Linked DNA regions of Homo sapiens. The protein of the gene in region 4 interacts with the protein of the main gene of each other region in a biochemical or structural test. Each region holds a gene or a part of one and is shown on either strand. Other genes may lie near its edges.

Region 1 (3,500 bases), on a different chromosome or scaffold from region 4:
TGGTAACTGGCAAATTACAGAAGAAAAAATACAAATGGCTAATAAACATTTATTCATTTAAAAATACATGAGTATATAGTATTTATTTAGCATGCAGTAGCTATGATGTGGCAGGCATGGTTTTAGGATAAGGGAAAACAGTAGTGGACAAAGCAGAAAAGATGCCTGTCCACGTGAAGCTTACATTCTATTGGAGACAAGGTACAATGATCAAATAAAGCAAAGTTTAAAACGTCTCACAAAGTTATATACACATTATATCGAATTAAAATAGGGTGAAGTGACAGTGTCACTGGGTCCCTACTTCAGACTGGGCAGTTAGTAAAATGGGTCACCTCTAAGGAGGTGATATGGAAGCTGAGATCTGAATAATAGTAAGAGCTCCCAGATGCAAAAAGGAGGAGGAAAGACATTCTAAGCAGAGGGCCTTGGGTCTTGGCCGCAAGAATGAGCTTCCCCATTGGCAAGCTACAGCGAGGACAAGACAGATGGCCAGTGCTGTTGGAGCAGCGAAGTGGGCACAGGGAAGTCTCAGGATGATCAAAGGGGTAAGTAAGGGCTGGGTCACGTAGGACTTACATGCCAGAGTAAGGAGTTGGGTTTTATCTTTCTGCACGGGGAACATAAACTGATTAACATTATTGAAAGATCACTCAGGCTGCTGGGCTGCTGCTGGGTGGAGAACTACGGGCTGGGGTAGGGATGGCAGGAGAGACAGTCGGGCGAGTGTCAGTACTCGCTTTAGAGAACAAGATGGGTGACTCCGCTATGGTGGATTACTGACGCTGAGAGAAGTGGGTGGATGAATGCAAGATGCACCTAGGAGTTCGTGCCCATGGGCTTGGTGTTGGGCTGGGAGGTTGACGAGGAAAAGAGAGTCCTTAGACTTCTGGCTTGGGCAAATGGATAATGATAGTGCTGTTTTTATGAGCAGATTTAGATGGAGAATGTGTGTGTGTGTGTGTGTGTGTGTGTGTGTGTGTGTGTGTGTGTGTGTATAGGAGATGGAACTGTACTTTTTTGGCCACTTTACTCTGAAATGCTATTGGATGTCCATGTGGCTCTGTCAGATTGGTAGTCTGAATCCTAGGGAGGAGCCTGCTTGCTGAGGGCCCCTGCTGCTCACCCTCAAGGTACTTGCCCAGCTTACTGAAAATACCACAGCACTGGCCTGTCCCCACCCTGGGTGTGTGCCATGTATCTGCCCACATAGTCCAAGAGTTCCATAAATGCTGTGAGAGGGTAACTATTACCTCAGGTGACTTTCCTCTCTTCTCTCCTTTATCCTCCACTTCCAACCCATCCCAAAGCCTTCCCAGTAGGGAAGTCTGCATCCCAAGGTCCGCAGAAACCCTCAGGTACCTGCTTTCCCCCAAATATTATGCCTCCAATCAACTGCCCTCATTTCTCAGCCTGGGTCTCTTCATAACTGGATGGCTACTAGAATTTCACAGAGATTTCTTTAACTCTGTGTCTCCCCACTCAAATCCAATTAGTGAAGAGCAAAAAAATATTCCAGTTGAGGTCTGTCTGCTACTTTCTAATCAGTTCACCCATCTCATCACACCCAAAATCCTAGGGATGTGGCATTGTCAGCACTAATGATGTCAGCAGCCAGTCTTGCCAAGTATTAATTAGTAATAGCATAGACATTGAGAGCAGGATCCACACACTCTTTTTTTTTTTTTTTAATTTGAGACAGAGTCTCACTCTGTTGCCCAGGCTGGAGTACAGTGGTGTGATCACAGCTCACTGCAGCCTCGACTTTCCAGGCTCACCCAATCCTCCTACCTCAGCCTCCCAAGTAGCTGGGACTACAGGTATATGCCACTGTGTCGGGCTAATTTTTTTTTCTTTTTTGGTAAAGACAGGGTCCCACTATATTGCCCAGGTTGGTCTCAAATTCCTGGGCTCAAGCAGTCCTCAACTGCCTTGGCTTCCCAAAGTGCTGGGATTAGAGGCATGCAGCACCATGCCCGGGCCACACACAGTCCATTTTTATGGCTTGCTTCAGGACCTACTACAGTATTGTGTACACTGCCTAAGATAGCATAATTTGCAGAATTCCATCTGGACTGTTGCCTTTCACCCTGCACTTTCCATTTCTTCGATTAAAATGGGCATCATTTTACCTATAGCTGGGAGTTTACCTAGAGCAATGTATGTAACACACCTACCACAGGATGCTGCTGATGCTGATGCCTTGCAAAGACTAACTATACATTTGTCCCTGGTTATTAACCCTGTGGTTGTAGTCAGAATGTGAGGTGCTCACACTTGCTGTCCTGCTTGCTAAGATGTGAAGGGTCCTTGAGAGGATGTCGCTGCAATAAGCCCAGTGGAATGACTTCTCAGCATTTCTTCCTCCTTGAATAGCCCCCTTATGACCCATGAGGAGCTGACCCCTGATTAGTTATGGCCACCCCCAGCAGTTGGTGCAGAAAGAGGGGTGCAACCTAATGAAACTTTCAGAAGGGGGCTTATTCCATGTGTATGGATGACCTTTGTCTTTCACTGGGTATGAACAAGAAAGCCTGATGCTTCAGTTGCTGCCTGCGGCCACCCTATGACCACAATGGGACCAGCTGATGTTGGGGACAGGAGGCCAGAGAGGAAGAACCTGGGCCCCTGATGACATTATCAAGCCACTCAATCAACCAACTTGGAAAGCAGGTGTTTTCTCTGATCAAGTGAAAAAGTAAGTATCCTCTTTGTAAAAGTCTGTTTGACTTGAGCTTTCTTCTACTTACAGCAAAAGCATTCTAACTCAGATCACTTTACTGGTGAAGTATATGGTAGTTTATTTTAAAATATTAAATGTTGGCCGGGCGTGGTGGCTCACACCTGTAATCCCAGCACTTTGGGAAGCCAAGGCAGGCAGATCACCTGAGGTCAGGAGTTCGCGACCAGCCTGGCCAACATGGTGAAACCCTGTCTCTACTAAAAATACAAAAATTTGCCGAGCATGGTGGCCCGTGCCTGTAATCCTAGCTACTCGGGAGGCTGAGGCAGGAGAATCGCTTGAACCCAGGAGGCGGAGGTTGCAGTGAGCTGAGACCGTGTCACTGCACTCTAGCCTGGGCAACAAGAGCAAAACTCCGTCTCAAAAAAAAAAAAAAAAAAATTAAATGTTAAGTTGAATTGAGGTTTCCAATACAGTTCCTACTTCTTCCAGCTCTCCAAGATGCTTCTCTATCCCTGGTGTATCAGTCAAATAGACTCCTTTGGAATGCATTCCTTGAGGGTCTGTTCATCCAGTATAAGAAATAACATCATTTACACTTACCAACTTCCTTCCTCTCTGGATTTCTTTCTTTACTGATTCCACATCAAAACTTCTATCAGGATTAAGTGGATCCTGATCCTCACATTCCACAAGTCCTGAAGAATACAGCTGCAGATTGGAAAAAAAAATCCAGAGTATGCACAAAGTAATATTGAAAGCTACATGTCAGAAAATCATACCAAAAGTGGAAAATCAAACCAGGAGTGGGAAATGG
Region 2 (4,146 bases), on a different chromosome or scaffold from region 4:
AGAGGCAGACGGACCATGAGGTCAGGAGTTCGAGACCAGCCTGGCCAACACAGTGAAACCCCGTCTCTACTAAAAATATAAAAAAAATTTAGCCAGGTGTTGTGGCACGCACCTGTAGTCCCAGCTACTCAGGAGGCTGAGGCTTTCCTCCCTTTCTGGGCACTCCTCCTGGATTTTCTTTGCAGGTTTATCTTCTACCCCGGCCATTAAGTATCCAAGACTCCATCCTAGGGCTTCTTCATTCATTTATGCACAGAGCTTTAATAAGTACTGATTTATAGATGACTCCCTGATTTTTATCTCTACCCTAGGCCTTGACTCTGCGATCCAGATCACTACTTCCCATTTTACACTTCCTAAACGCCTGAAAGGCACCTGTAACTCAGCAGGTACAAAACCAAACTTCTAAATTTTCCTAACTCATTAAATGACATCTATCCAGCTATGCAATTCAGAAACCTACAAGTCATCTTTAGCAATTCCTTCCCCTATCCCACAGATCCTGCCCATCTTATTTCCTAAATATCCCTTGAATCTGTCTATTTCTCCTTATCTCTATAACCACTTCCCAACATTTCTTGCTTGCATTACTCCACTACTCTCATCCACTCGTCTCCTTCAATTGTCCCTATTACATCTAGACTGAATCTGAAAATATAAAGCTGATCACCTCACTTGGATTAAGTATTTCAATGGTTTCTGATTGCTCTTAAGATAAAGACAAAACTTCAAGGCCCTGTGTGATCCAGCCTCTTACTACCTCACCAGTCTCACTTCACACTACTCTATGCTTTTTCTTTCCTTGAAAGAGCTATATCCCTCAGGCCACTGGCTCTTTACAAATACTATTTCCTGTCTTGAAAAAGCTATTCCTTGACTCCTAATATCTTCCAGATCTCAACTATCACCTTTTCAAAAGTTTACCTCAATTTCTCTAAATCCTTCTTTAGTAAGCATTCATAGTGTCAAGTACAAGTGTCATGGCACTTATCCAGTTTCAATATCAGGTTTTATTTATACAGTTATTTATTGTTCGTCTCCCAAACTAGACTGTAGCTCAAAAAGGGCAACGAGGTTAAGTCTCTCTGTGTTACACAGCTGGAACCCCAATGCTGTTACACAGCAAGTGCTCAATATATATCTTTTTTTTTTTTTTTTTTTTTTGAGAAGGAGTCTCGGGCTCTGTCACCCAGGCTGGAGTGCAGTGGCGCGATCTCTGCTCACTGCAAGCTCCGCCTCCCGGGTTCTCGCCATTCTCCTGCCTCAGCCTCCCGAATAGCTGGGACTACAGGCGCCTGCCACCACGCCCGGCTAATTTTTTGTATTTTTCATAGAGACGGTGTTTCACCGTGTTAGCCAGGATGGTCTCGATCTCCTGACCTCGTGATCCGCCCGCCTCGGCCTCCTAAAATGCTGGGATTACAGGCGTGAGCCATCGCGCCCGGCCCCAGGTGCTCAATATATATTTGATGAATGATGGAATGCAAAAAAAAATTCCAGTTTCCCCAAATTGGAGTTAGACGATCTTTAAAATCTCACTAATTCTAAATTTCGGTTACCATAAATATAAAAGCAAAGCATCGGCTGGGCGCGGTGGCTCACGCCGGTAATCCCAGCACTATGGGAGGCAGAGGCGGACGGATCATGAGGTCAGGAGTTCGAGACCAGCCTGGCCAACACAGTGAAACCCCATCTCTACTAAAAATACAAAAAAAATTAGCGGGGCGTGGTGGCACACGCCTGTAGTCCCAGCTACTCGGGAGGCTGAGGCAGGAGAATCATTTGAACCCAGGAGGCGGAGCTTGCAGTGAGCCGAGACCGCGCCACTGCACTCCAGCCTGAGCGAAAGAGCGAGACTCCGTTTCAAAACAAAAACAAAGCATCAATTCCTGATCATGACCCACTGTAACTTCAAGCAAGCTACAAGAATCTATACTAGGGTTCAGACCTTTGAGGCTGACAGCGAGCTTTGAGTTTGATGACAGTACCTAAAATATATTAAGTGTACTCAGGAACTGGCCAAGCATGGGGTGGGGCTTGTCAGGAAACTGGTATTTCTTTCTTCTATTTGTAGTGAATAAGATGCTCAATAGACGACTTTTACTCCTCGTCAATGGTCGCATAACTGTCTCTTTTTAGACACTTATGAAATTGTCTGAACTTCCTCCTCTACTTCTCCAACTCCCAGAAGAGTGAAGGTAACAAATGTTATGTCCAAACCACGGTTTGTTCCCAGACCCTGGTTTCCAATGCCCACCTCTTTTCCAAGAAGTCCAAAGAGACGCCCCTCATCGCAAAGGAAGTGCTACCGTGCTGCCTCGATGTCCCCCTTGGGTGCCATCCCTGAAACATCGAACCTCCCATACCTCTTCTCCAGCCGTCCCCCTCATCCTCGTTCCCCGCCTACCCTCTCTTCAACTTCATTCATTCATCCAACATTCGCTGGGGGATTTCTACATTGACACGCCCCGGACAGAAGCCTGGGGTAAAGATGATCAGGAACACGTTCCCTCCCGCTAAGCGGCTTGGCAGAGTAAGAGGCATCCCAAAACCTAAGCAACCGGGACACGCGCCCACCTCCCCGCCTCTCCAGGCCGGGTCAGGTCGACCCCCCAACCTCCTGACCCCCTTCCTGCGACAATTAGGCTTTCCCGCTAGTCTGTCTGGCTCCCTGGCTCTTCCATCTGGCTCCCTGGCTAGTCCGACTCCCCTCTCCCCGCAAGAACTTCATTGGCCCGCCAGCCAGCTCTCACCTCACGCAGAAAACACGGGACACAGCGCGGACCTCGGCGTGCAGACTAAGCGCGCTTCTCGCGATACTCGGGAACTCCTGGGGCGAGAAGGGCCCGCAGCGTTTGGCGCCAAATCCGTGCGGGGGGCTGGGCGGAGCCTGCAAAACCCGCCTCTCAGGTTCCGCCCAGCACGCCGGTCCCGCCTTCGGTCCCACAATTTCCGCCCTACTGAATTCTTCAGAGGAACTCAGTTAAGCCTCCTTATTTGCATAAAGTTAATACTTGTTATTCTGGGGTTTTTCTTTTTTTTTTTTCTTGAGACTAAGTCTCGCTCTATCACTCAGGCTGGAGAGCAGTGATTCGATCTCGGCTGACTACAGTCTCTACCTCCCGGGCTGAAACGATCCTCCCACCTCAGCCTCCCTTCCCCGACTAACACCACCACACCGAATTTTTGTTTTAATGGGTTTTTGTTTGTTTGTTTGTTTGTTTTGCAAAGACGGGGATTAGTTGCCCAGGCTGGTGTCGAACTCCTTAGCTCAAGCGATCTTCCCACCTCAGCTTCCCAAAGTGCTGGGATTACAGGCGTGAGCCACTGTGCCCGGCACTTTAAACCTTGGAAATAGGTCTCGGTTTTTGGAAAACTGAGTTGTGGGAGGAGGAAAAAGGACAGAGGCAAGCAATAGTGAATAAGAAATTACCGCTTCTTCAGAGTTCATAGCAGAATGCTTCGAACTCAGAGTTTTATGAATTGTTTATTGAATAATAAGCTGAGAAAAGAGGTGGTAAAGAGAGGAAAAATAGGGCTGAACATAGACACTGGCCAGGTGCGGTGTGGCTCGCCTGTAATCCCAGCACTTTGGGAGGCCCAGGCAGGCGAATGGCTTGAGCCCAGAAGTTGAAGGCGGCAGTGACTAGGATCGCACTGCTGGCGATCCAGCTGGAGATCCAGTCTGGGTGACAGTGAGATCTTGTCGCAAAAAAAAAAAAAAAAAAAAAAAAAAAAGCGAGAGAGTGTGAATGTAAACAAAAAAAAATGTCAAAAATATGTTACTTGGGGCCGGGTGCAGTGGCTCACGCCTGTAATCCCAGCACTTTGGGAGGCCGAGGCGGGCAGATCACGAGGTCAGGAATTCGAGACCAGCCTAGCCAACGTGGTGAAACCCCATCTCTACTAAAAATACAAAAATTAGCCGGGCGTGGTGGCGCGCACCTGTAATTCCAGCTACTTAGGAGGCTGAGGCAGGAGTATCACTTGAACCTGGGAGGCAGAGGTTGCAGTGAGCTGAGATCATGCCATTGCACTCCGGCCTGGGCGACGGAGCAAGACTCTGTCTCAAAAAAAAAAAAAGTTATTTGGTCAGACTTGGTGGCTCATGCCTGTAATCTTAGCACTTTGAGAGGCTGACGCAGG
Region 3 (3,500 bases), on a different chromosome or scaffold from region 4:
TACTAAAAATGTAAAAATTAGTAGGACGTAGTGGCACATGCCTGTAATCCTAGCTACTCAGGAGGCTGAGGCACAAGAATCCCTTGAACCCAGGAGGTGGAGGCTGCAGTGAGCTGGGATCGTGCCACTGCACCCCAGCCTGTGCAACAGAGTGAGACTCAGTCTCAAAAAAAAAAAAAAAAAAAAAAAAGCTAATGAAACTAAGGCTCATAGAGATTCAACCACTTGTTAAGACCACATCGTTAGTAGGCAGATGAGGCAGAATACAAATGGCACCACTGGGTGTGCCCCTTCCACTCTCCCACTCCACCATGTGTGCAGGACCTCACGTGATGGTAAAGGGGAGCTAGGCATCTTTTTGTCACATGGCATTTTTCTCATCCTGAAGGAATGCCCTGACATTGCCAGATAATGAGACTGGGGCACGAATTAGATGATAGATCATAAACCAGTTTAGTTCACTACTAAAGAAAATAGTGTAAAATGACAGAATGAGAGGGAAAGCTGGACAGGCCTGGGTTCAGATCACAGCTTTACCATTGAAGCAGCTCTTTGAGCTTGCTTAATTTATCTGAGCCCATTTCTCAGGGCTTTTTCAGCCTGGAAAGCTGAAAAACAGCTTTCCAAGCAATGATGATGCTGACCTTAGATCAGATGTGTTTGTTATTAGGATTAAGTGAACAATATACTATAGAGCCTAGCCCAATGCCAGACACACAGAATTCCATAAGCATATGAATTTTTTCCCAGCCCTTTGCTTCATGGCTTATGAAAAACTGGGAACCACCTTCTGTGCCTTACAGAAGGCTTTCAATCTTTCCAGTAATAATGAAAATAAACACATCAAAATCTACAAAATCAAGAGAAATGATTGATAAACAAAAAATTTTAACAAAAGAAACGGAAAATCATCTCTATAGAAGAAAAAATGGACACTTAATACCTTAAGGGAAATAATGGAAACAAATCAATGTTAACATATCTTAAAGTATATTAAAGAAAAAGAAAATCTGACAGTTTATTAAAAGAGAAATGCTATTTCACTCTGAAACTGCACAGAGTAAAAATTTACAAGTTCAGATCTTATAATCATTACGAGAGAATATGGCTAAGTTATCTTTAAACTATCCATAAATAATCTGCTAACTAAATAGCTGCTTCAAATTCTTTTTGGAACAAAGAGAGATATACACAGATAAAATATGAGAGAATATTTAAGCTACTTTGTTTCAAACAATTACAAACCAATACTTAGAATTATTATTTTTCAAAAATTGTGTTAGGGTTTACCCTCTACAGAATCTCCAAAAGCAACAATGTGATCCTTGTTTTAGGTTTCCATACATACAATTTAGGAAAATTTATTTCCTAAATTCCTCTTCCCCTCATATTTTCACTTTCAAAAGAGGAAACTGTGCAAGTATCAATTTCGTAGCCTGATTCTCAATCCCAGTTCAATGATTAAATGTGCTCGACAGAGTAGGCAACTCAACAGATGTTAGTTTCCCTACTGCACTTACTAAAAAATGAGTGACTCAGTTATTCTGAAATCAGGGACAAGTTATTGAAATATAAATCGAAACCCTCCTTCCTTTCTCTATTTTCTAAAAATCCTATAATAAATAATGTATTACTTATGCAATAAAGAAAACACAAAGTAAGAAATTGTGAAAAGCGAAGAAAGAGGAAGAATGCAGGAGAGAAGACAGGAGAGTTTGTAAGAATCTTGTTTGTTTTATCCTAAGTATACAGCAGCTCATTCCAAATCCATAGGTCTATCACTGCTCCTCAGGGCTGAAGGCTAAAGAAAAAAAGACTTTTAAGCTAATGACCACTCTGCTTCCAACGATGAGACCCACTGTATCTTCTTATACAATTATGGAGATTTCTATTTACAATCACAGTTGTTTGCTCTGTCAAAACAGAAGGAATAAAATGCATGTAGAAGAAAAGACCAGATACAGACTTCATATAAGAAATCATTTCTTCATGTCCTTATCCAAAAGAGTAGGGGGAAATCATGTGAGGGGAATATATTCAGTAAAAAAAATACTTCCTTCCTTTCAATAGCTAAAAGGTTTAATCTATAAACATTTTTATATTAGTCTCTCTCACCTCTTCATATTATTCTAAATAAGTGATGTTTAAGTACTAAAGGCATCTAATTTTTATTCAGAGATAGCAGAGCTGAATACAGAAAACGGCAACTGTAACAACTGTCAACGAAGCCATTAATACCCATGAACCAAAAACACCCTGGCGGTGTTTATTTGCTAAAGGTCTATCACACTGAACACGGGGGATGGAGGTATTTAAAGCATGTCCTTTTCATAACACTTAATCTAAACATGCATCTCCTAATCATACATTTCAGTTGTTTATGAATACCAACAGGGAAAAATAAGTTCATTATTTGTCCATGATACACAGCACCTAACAACTACCTAAATCTCAAGAAGAAATATTCCAGCTCAATCATACCTTTTTCAGCTCTTCTTTGGAGAACTTTTCATAAGGATTATGTTCCAGATAGGTAATGTGCTCTGAATTATTGGTACCAAACCCTACAGTTTTGCCTTTTTTATTTCCAGATGGTTCATAAGGGTGATGTAGAAGGTCATAATGAAGCATTGTGATCATTTCTTTTTTGATTAGTTCTTCACTTTTCTGTAAATCTGTTAAAGGCGGTTCTACATTTAAGGGTCTTAGAATAGTTTCATTTACCTAAAATTTTAAAACAAATACAATTACCAAACATATCACTATAATATATTAATGTTATTACCTGTTACAGCATGAATTAAACAGCGGTTTTACATTTTCAAAAGCAATTTCCATTTTTTTCCTTCTAAATTCTTTCTGGTACTACTGAAACATTTTAAAGATTGGATTTGAGAACTACTTTGCTATATTCCAGAAAGTAGATGAAATTTTGTTTTATAGTCTTTATGAATGATGTAAAACGCAGCAATCATATAAAAAGAAACTTAAAACTTCCTAAACCAGAAATTCTAACACTTACTTCTGATGGTCTTGGCAGATCTTTCTGGACAGCTTTATGCATTCGTTTCATTTCCTTTACACGCTCTGCATCTCGTATGGCCTAAAAAATGATTTTTATATCCTTTATTGCAGCTATAGCGTATTTGATATCTCTCAGTAAAGCTAAAAACACTTTGGTATGTAAGATCATGTGTGTTCAATAGCTAAAGTTTAGAAATCGGTTTAAGTTTGTAGAAAGGCAATGCTAAGGCAACAGAAATGAATCAGTCTATTCACTCTCATTATAATAGAAACTAAGAGCTTCCAATGTCTACTAGAGCATTCTCCAAACTTGCATGGATCCATATCACGTAACAAACTTTTCTCATCTAAATGGAAAACCTAAACTCCAAAGAGACTCCCACGACAAAACTCTTTCTTCCCTTTCACTCCAAAATTACTGACTTTTAACTCAAAAAGCCAGCCAAAAAATGTATTGTTTCCTGATTCTTATGAAT
Region 4 (5,104 bases):
CAGAGCAAGACTCTGTCTCAAAATGAATAAATAAAAATAAAGCAATCTCAAAATACTAGCAATAAAGGATTATTAAGTAAACCATGACACATTTATAACATACTACAAATGATACAGAAAAGCGTGTATTGCCACAAAGAAGTGTTTGCCATAAATTGTTGAGAAAAGCATATTACAATGTGGTATGCAGGATTTGACCCAATTTTTACAAAGCAGCATATATATAAGTGTCTTTATAAACATGGATAAAATAGACTGAAATACAGTATATACTTTTTATCCTTTTATTTTTCAATTGTGCAGAAGGCCTCTTGGTGTTTTGTATTTTGTTTTTGAAATACATTCATTACAGAAAATTTGGATAATAAAGACTGTTTTAGGCTGGGCATGGTGACTCACGCCCGTAATCCCAGCACTTTGGGAGGCCAATGCTGGCGGGTCACCTGAAGTCAGAAGTTTGAAACCAGCCTGGCCAACGTGATGAAACTCCATCTCTACTAATGATACAAAAATGAGCTGGGTGCCTGTAATCCCAGCTACCCAGAAGCTGAGACAGAAAAATTGATTGAACCTAGGAGACAGAGGTTGCAGTGAGCCAAGATTGCGCCACTGCACTCCAGCAGATTGCGCACTGCTCTGTTGCTCTGGGCAACAGAGCAAGACTGACTCAAAAAAAAAAATGCGGTTCTCCTTCAAAAACCACAAGTTATCTATAGAGAAATAACTTGGTAGTTATGTAATTTTTAAATTTTTTCCTTCTCAGAAAAATAAAGGATAATTCATTCAGCAGTTATTGTTGGAGTACCAATTCTGAACTAGACTGTGCTTGGTTCCAGGTATAAAAAGAATGAGGTAGACACAGTCCCTGCCATCAAGCAGGGAGGTAGATACTATGGATACCTAATACTACTTGTTCATATAAAATGCACTATGCTTGCTTATAAACCATTTAAAAAATCACCTGACATCTCATGTCTCTTAAAGAACTACTATTACGACACATTTTGGAAAATACCCTTTCAGACATCTGTCTCTGCATATATGTACATACAGGTGTCCACATACCTCTTTTACTGTAGAAGGGATAATATGCTATGCAACTGCTAAGTAATTTGCTCTTTTCACTCAAAATTATGTTGTGGAACTGATTTTTTTTTTTTTTTTTGAGATGGAGCTGTGCTCTTGTTGCCCAGGCTGGAGTGCAATGGCGCGATCTCCAGCTCACCACAACCTCCGCCTCCCAGGTTCAAGCAATTCTCCTGCCTCAGCCTCCAGAGTAGCTGGGATTACAGGCATGTGCCACCACACCTGGTTAATTTTGTATTTTTATTAGAGACAGGGTTTCTCTGTATTGGTCAGGGTGGTCTCGAACTCCCAACCTCAGGTGATCCACCTGCCTTGGCCTCCCAAAGTGCTGGGATTATAGGCATGAGCCATTGGCCTTTTTTTTTTTTTTTTTTTTTTTTAAATAGAGACAGGGTCTTGGCTTGCTGCCTAGGCTGGCCTCAAACCTGGGCTCAAGTGATCCTTTGGCCTTAACCTCCCAAGTAGCTGGAACTATAGGCTGATGCCACCGTGCCTGGTGAGGAGCTGATTTTTTTTTTTTTTTTTGAGACTGAGCTTCACTCGTGTTATCCGGGCTGGAGTGCATTGGTGCAATCTTGGCTCGCTGCAACCTCTGCTTCTCGGGTTCAAGCGATTCTCCTGCCTCAGCCTCTCGAGTAGTTGGGACTATAGGCGTGCACCACCACACCCAACTGATTTTTGTATTTTTAGTAGAGACGGGGTTTCAACATGTTGGCCAGGCTGGTCTCGAACTTTTGACCTCAGGTGATCCTGCCTCAGCCTCCCAAAGTGCTGGGATTACAGGCTTGAGCCACCATGGCCCAGCCAAGAACTGATTTTTTAATGTTATCTGTAAAGATTTACATCTATCATTTTAAATGACCACCGATTCCATTATAAGAATACATCATCCCTTACTTAACAGTGGACCCAGTCAGGGAACAACATTTAACTTCTTTTCAGTCGTTTGCTATTATATACAATGCTCCAGTGAGTATCTTTGCATACATTTCTTCATGATTATAAAATAATCGTAAGGCCAGGCGTCGTGGCTCACGCCTGTAATTCCAGCACTTTGGGAGGCCAAGGCAGGTGGATCACCTGATGTCAGGAGTTCAAGACCGGCACCGCCAACATGGTGAAACCCCATCTCTACTAAAAATACAAAATTAGCTGGGCGTGGTGGCACACACCTATAATACCAGCTACTCGGGAGGCTGAGTCAGGAGAATCAGTTGAAGCTGGGAGGCAGAGACTGCAGTGAGCCAAGATCGTGCCATTGCATTCAGCCTGGGCAACAAGAGCAAAACTCCATCTCAAAAAAATAAAATAATCATAAGATGTATTCCTAAAAGTAGGTTTTCTGGGGGGAAATACACATTTGACATTTTTTTAACATCTTAGTTTTTGCATTTTTGTACTGTCTTCTCTAAAGGTACCAGTTTACGCTTCAGTCATGCATGAGAGTGCCCAGTTAGTTTCCATACCCTTAACATTTTTTTTTTTAAGAAATAGGCTGGTCTCAAACTCCTGGGTTTAAGCAATCCTCCCACCTCAGCCTCCCAAAGTGCTGGGATTACAGGTGTGAGCCTCTGTGCCTATCCTCCATACCCTTTATAACAATGGGTTTTTGTCTTAAATTTTTGCCAGTGTGATAGTTGTTTTAAAAAATAGTCTTTTTGACTAGGTGCGGTGGCTCATGCCTGTAATCCCAGGACTTTGGGGAGGCCAAGATGAGTGGATCACCTGAGGTCAGGAGTTTGAGACCAGCCTGGCCAACATGGTATAACCCAGTCTCTACTAAAAATAAAAAAATTAGTCTGGCATGGTGGTGCACGCCTGTAGTCCCAGCTACTCGGGAGGCTGAGGCACAAGACTCGCTTGAACCCAGGAGGCAGAGGTTACAGTAAGCGGAGATCTTCACACCAGTGCACTCCAGCCTGGGCAACAGAGCAAGACTGTCTCAAAAAAAAAAAAAAGTATACGTAAAAATAATAAAAAAAATTAAAAAATTAGCAGGGCATGGTAGCACGTGCCTGTAGTCCCAGCTATTCGGGAGGCTGAGGCAGGAGAATTGCTTGAGCCTGGGAGATGGAGGTTGCAGTGAGTCAAGATTGCGTCACTGCCCTCTAGCCTGGGCATCAGAGCAATATTCCATCTCAGAAAAAAATAGTCTTTTCAGTGAAAATTTTGTCATTTTTTTATGTGTATTTCTTTGGTTTTAGCCATATATATGTATTTTTTTTTTTACTATGTTTAATGTCAATTTGTGGGGTTTTTGTAAATTTTCTCTTTGATTCCCCTTCCCCTAACAGTGTTTTTGTTTGCAAGAACTTGAAAATGATTATAGTGACCTCTTATAATGAGGCCAGGCACAGTGGCTCACACCTGTAACTTTAGCACTTCAGGAGACTTAGGCAGGAAGATCACTTGAGGCCAGAATTTCAAGACCAGCCTGGGCAGCATGGGAAGACCCTATCTCAAAAAGAAATAATTTTGAAAAATAAATTGTGCAGTTTTTTCTAGTTTACCTTTCGGAAGCTTCTACTAGTCCCAAAGTTTGTTTTTTTTGTTTGTTTGTTTTAGTTAAAAAATACTTTATGGTGGCTGGGCGCGGTGGCTCACGTCTATAATCCCAGCACTTTGGGAGGCCGAGGCGGGAGGGTCACCTGAGGTCAGGAGTTCAAGACCAGCCTGGCCAATGTGGTGAAGCCCTGTCTACTAAAAATACAAAAATTAGCCAGGTGTGGTTGTGGGCACCTGTAATGCCAGCTACTTGGGAGGCTGAGGCAGGAGAATCGCTTGAACCCAGGAGGTGGAGGTTGCAGTGAGCTGAGATCGCGCCATTGCACTCCAGCCTGGGCAACAGGAGCGAAACTGTCTCTCAAAAAAAGAAGAAAAAAAAAAACTTTATGGCTAACAAATTGTAATAATCAGTTATCCGAACCCTCAGCAATTCATAATGTTTTTGCTAGTGGACATTCTTGCCTCACTGTTGATGGCTGCTGACTGAGGAGGGTGGTAGTTGGCTGAAGGTTGAGCTGGCTGTGGCAATTTCTTGAAATAAGACAACAAAGTTTGCCTGAGTAACTGAGTCTCCTTTTCACATAAAATTTCTCGATATTATATCATGCTGTTTGATAGCATTTTACTTACAGTATAACTTCTTTCAAAATTGGATTCAATCTCAAACCCTGCTACTGCTTTCTCAACTAAACTTATGGAGTAGTCTAAATCCTTTATTGTCGTTTTAACAATGTTCACAGCATCTTCACTAGGAGGAGATTCCATCTCAAGAAACCAGTTTATTTGCTCATCCATGAGAAGCAACTCCTTTGAGAGGCCCAGGCGGCCAGATAGATCATTTGAGGTCAGGAGTTTGAGACCACCCTGGCCAGCATGGTGAAACCTCGTCTCTACTAAAAATAAAAAATTTAGCTGGGCATGGTGGTACATGCCTGTAATCCTGGCTACTCGGGAGGGTGAGGCAGGAGAATCACTTGAACCTGAGAGATGGAGGTTGCAGTGAGCCAAAATTGTGCCACTGCCCTCCAGCCTGGGTAACAGAGTGAGGCTCAGTCTCAAAAAAAAGGAAGCAACTCCTCATCCACTCAAGTTTTACCATAAAGTTACAGCAATTCAGTTATATCTTTAAGCTCCATTTCTAATTCCAGTTCTCCTGCTATTTCCACCACATCTGCTGTTACTTGCCCCACTGAAGGTGGAGGTAGCAGTGAGCCCAGATTGTGCCATTGCACTCCAGCCTGGGTGACAGAGCGAGACCTTATCTCAAAAAAAAAAAAAAAATCTTAAGCAGCCACCCAATATATACTTCAGATTAAAAAAGAGCTGTTGGCCAGGTGCGGTGGCTCATGCGTGTAATCTCAGCACTTTGGGAGACTGAGGCAGGTGGATCACTTGAGGCCAGGAGTTTGACACCAGCCTGGCCAATAAGGTAAAACCCCGTCTCTACTAAAAATGCAAAAACTAGCCGGGCACAGTGGTGCATGCCTGTAATCCCAGCTACTCAGGAGGCTGA

The links.
Region 1: the proteins of RPA2 (region 4) and PHF11 form a complex in vitro, tested with the Homo sapiens proteins (one study listed by BioGRID).
Region 2: the proteins of RPA2 (region 4) and TIPIN interact in a biophysical measurement, tested with the Homo sapiens proteins (one study listed by IntAct).
Region 3: the proteins of RPA2 (region 4) and CDC5L form a complex in vitro, tested with the Homo sapiens proteins (one study listed by BioGRID).

The regions. Positions count from the first base shown.
Region 1 is NC_000013.11:49,512,953-49,516,452, reverse strand, and holds part of PHF11 (PHD finger protein 11), read right to left. Parts: intron 3,395-3,500; coding exon 3,287-3,394; intron 1-3,286. Other genes in the region: SETDB2-PHF11 protein, read right to left, coding at 3,287-3,394. UniProt on the Homo sapiens protein: Positive regulator of Th1-type cytokine gene expression.
Region 2 is NC_000015.10:66,353,886-66,358,031, forward strand, and holds the start of TIPIN (TIMELESS-interacting protein), read right to left. Parts: upstream 2,801-4,146; 5' UTR 2,754-2,800; exon of another isoform or gene 2,258-2,753; intron 237-2,257; exon of another isoform or gene 113-236; intron 1-112.
Region 3 is NC_000006.12:44,425,706-44,429,205, reverse strand, and holds part of CDC5L (cell division cycle 5-like protein), read right to left. Parts: intron 3,104-3,500; coding exon 3,023-3,103; intron 2,725-3,022; coding exon 2,482-2,724; intron 1-2,481.
Region 4 is NC_000001.11:27,900,227-27,905,330, reverse strand, and holds part of RPA2 (replication protein A 32 kDa subunit), read left to right. Parts: intron 1-5,104. UniProt on the Homo sapiens protein: As part of the heterotrimeric replication protein A complex (RPA/RP-A), binds and stabilizes single-stranded DNA intermediates that form during DNA replication or upon DNA stress.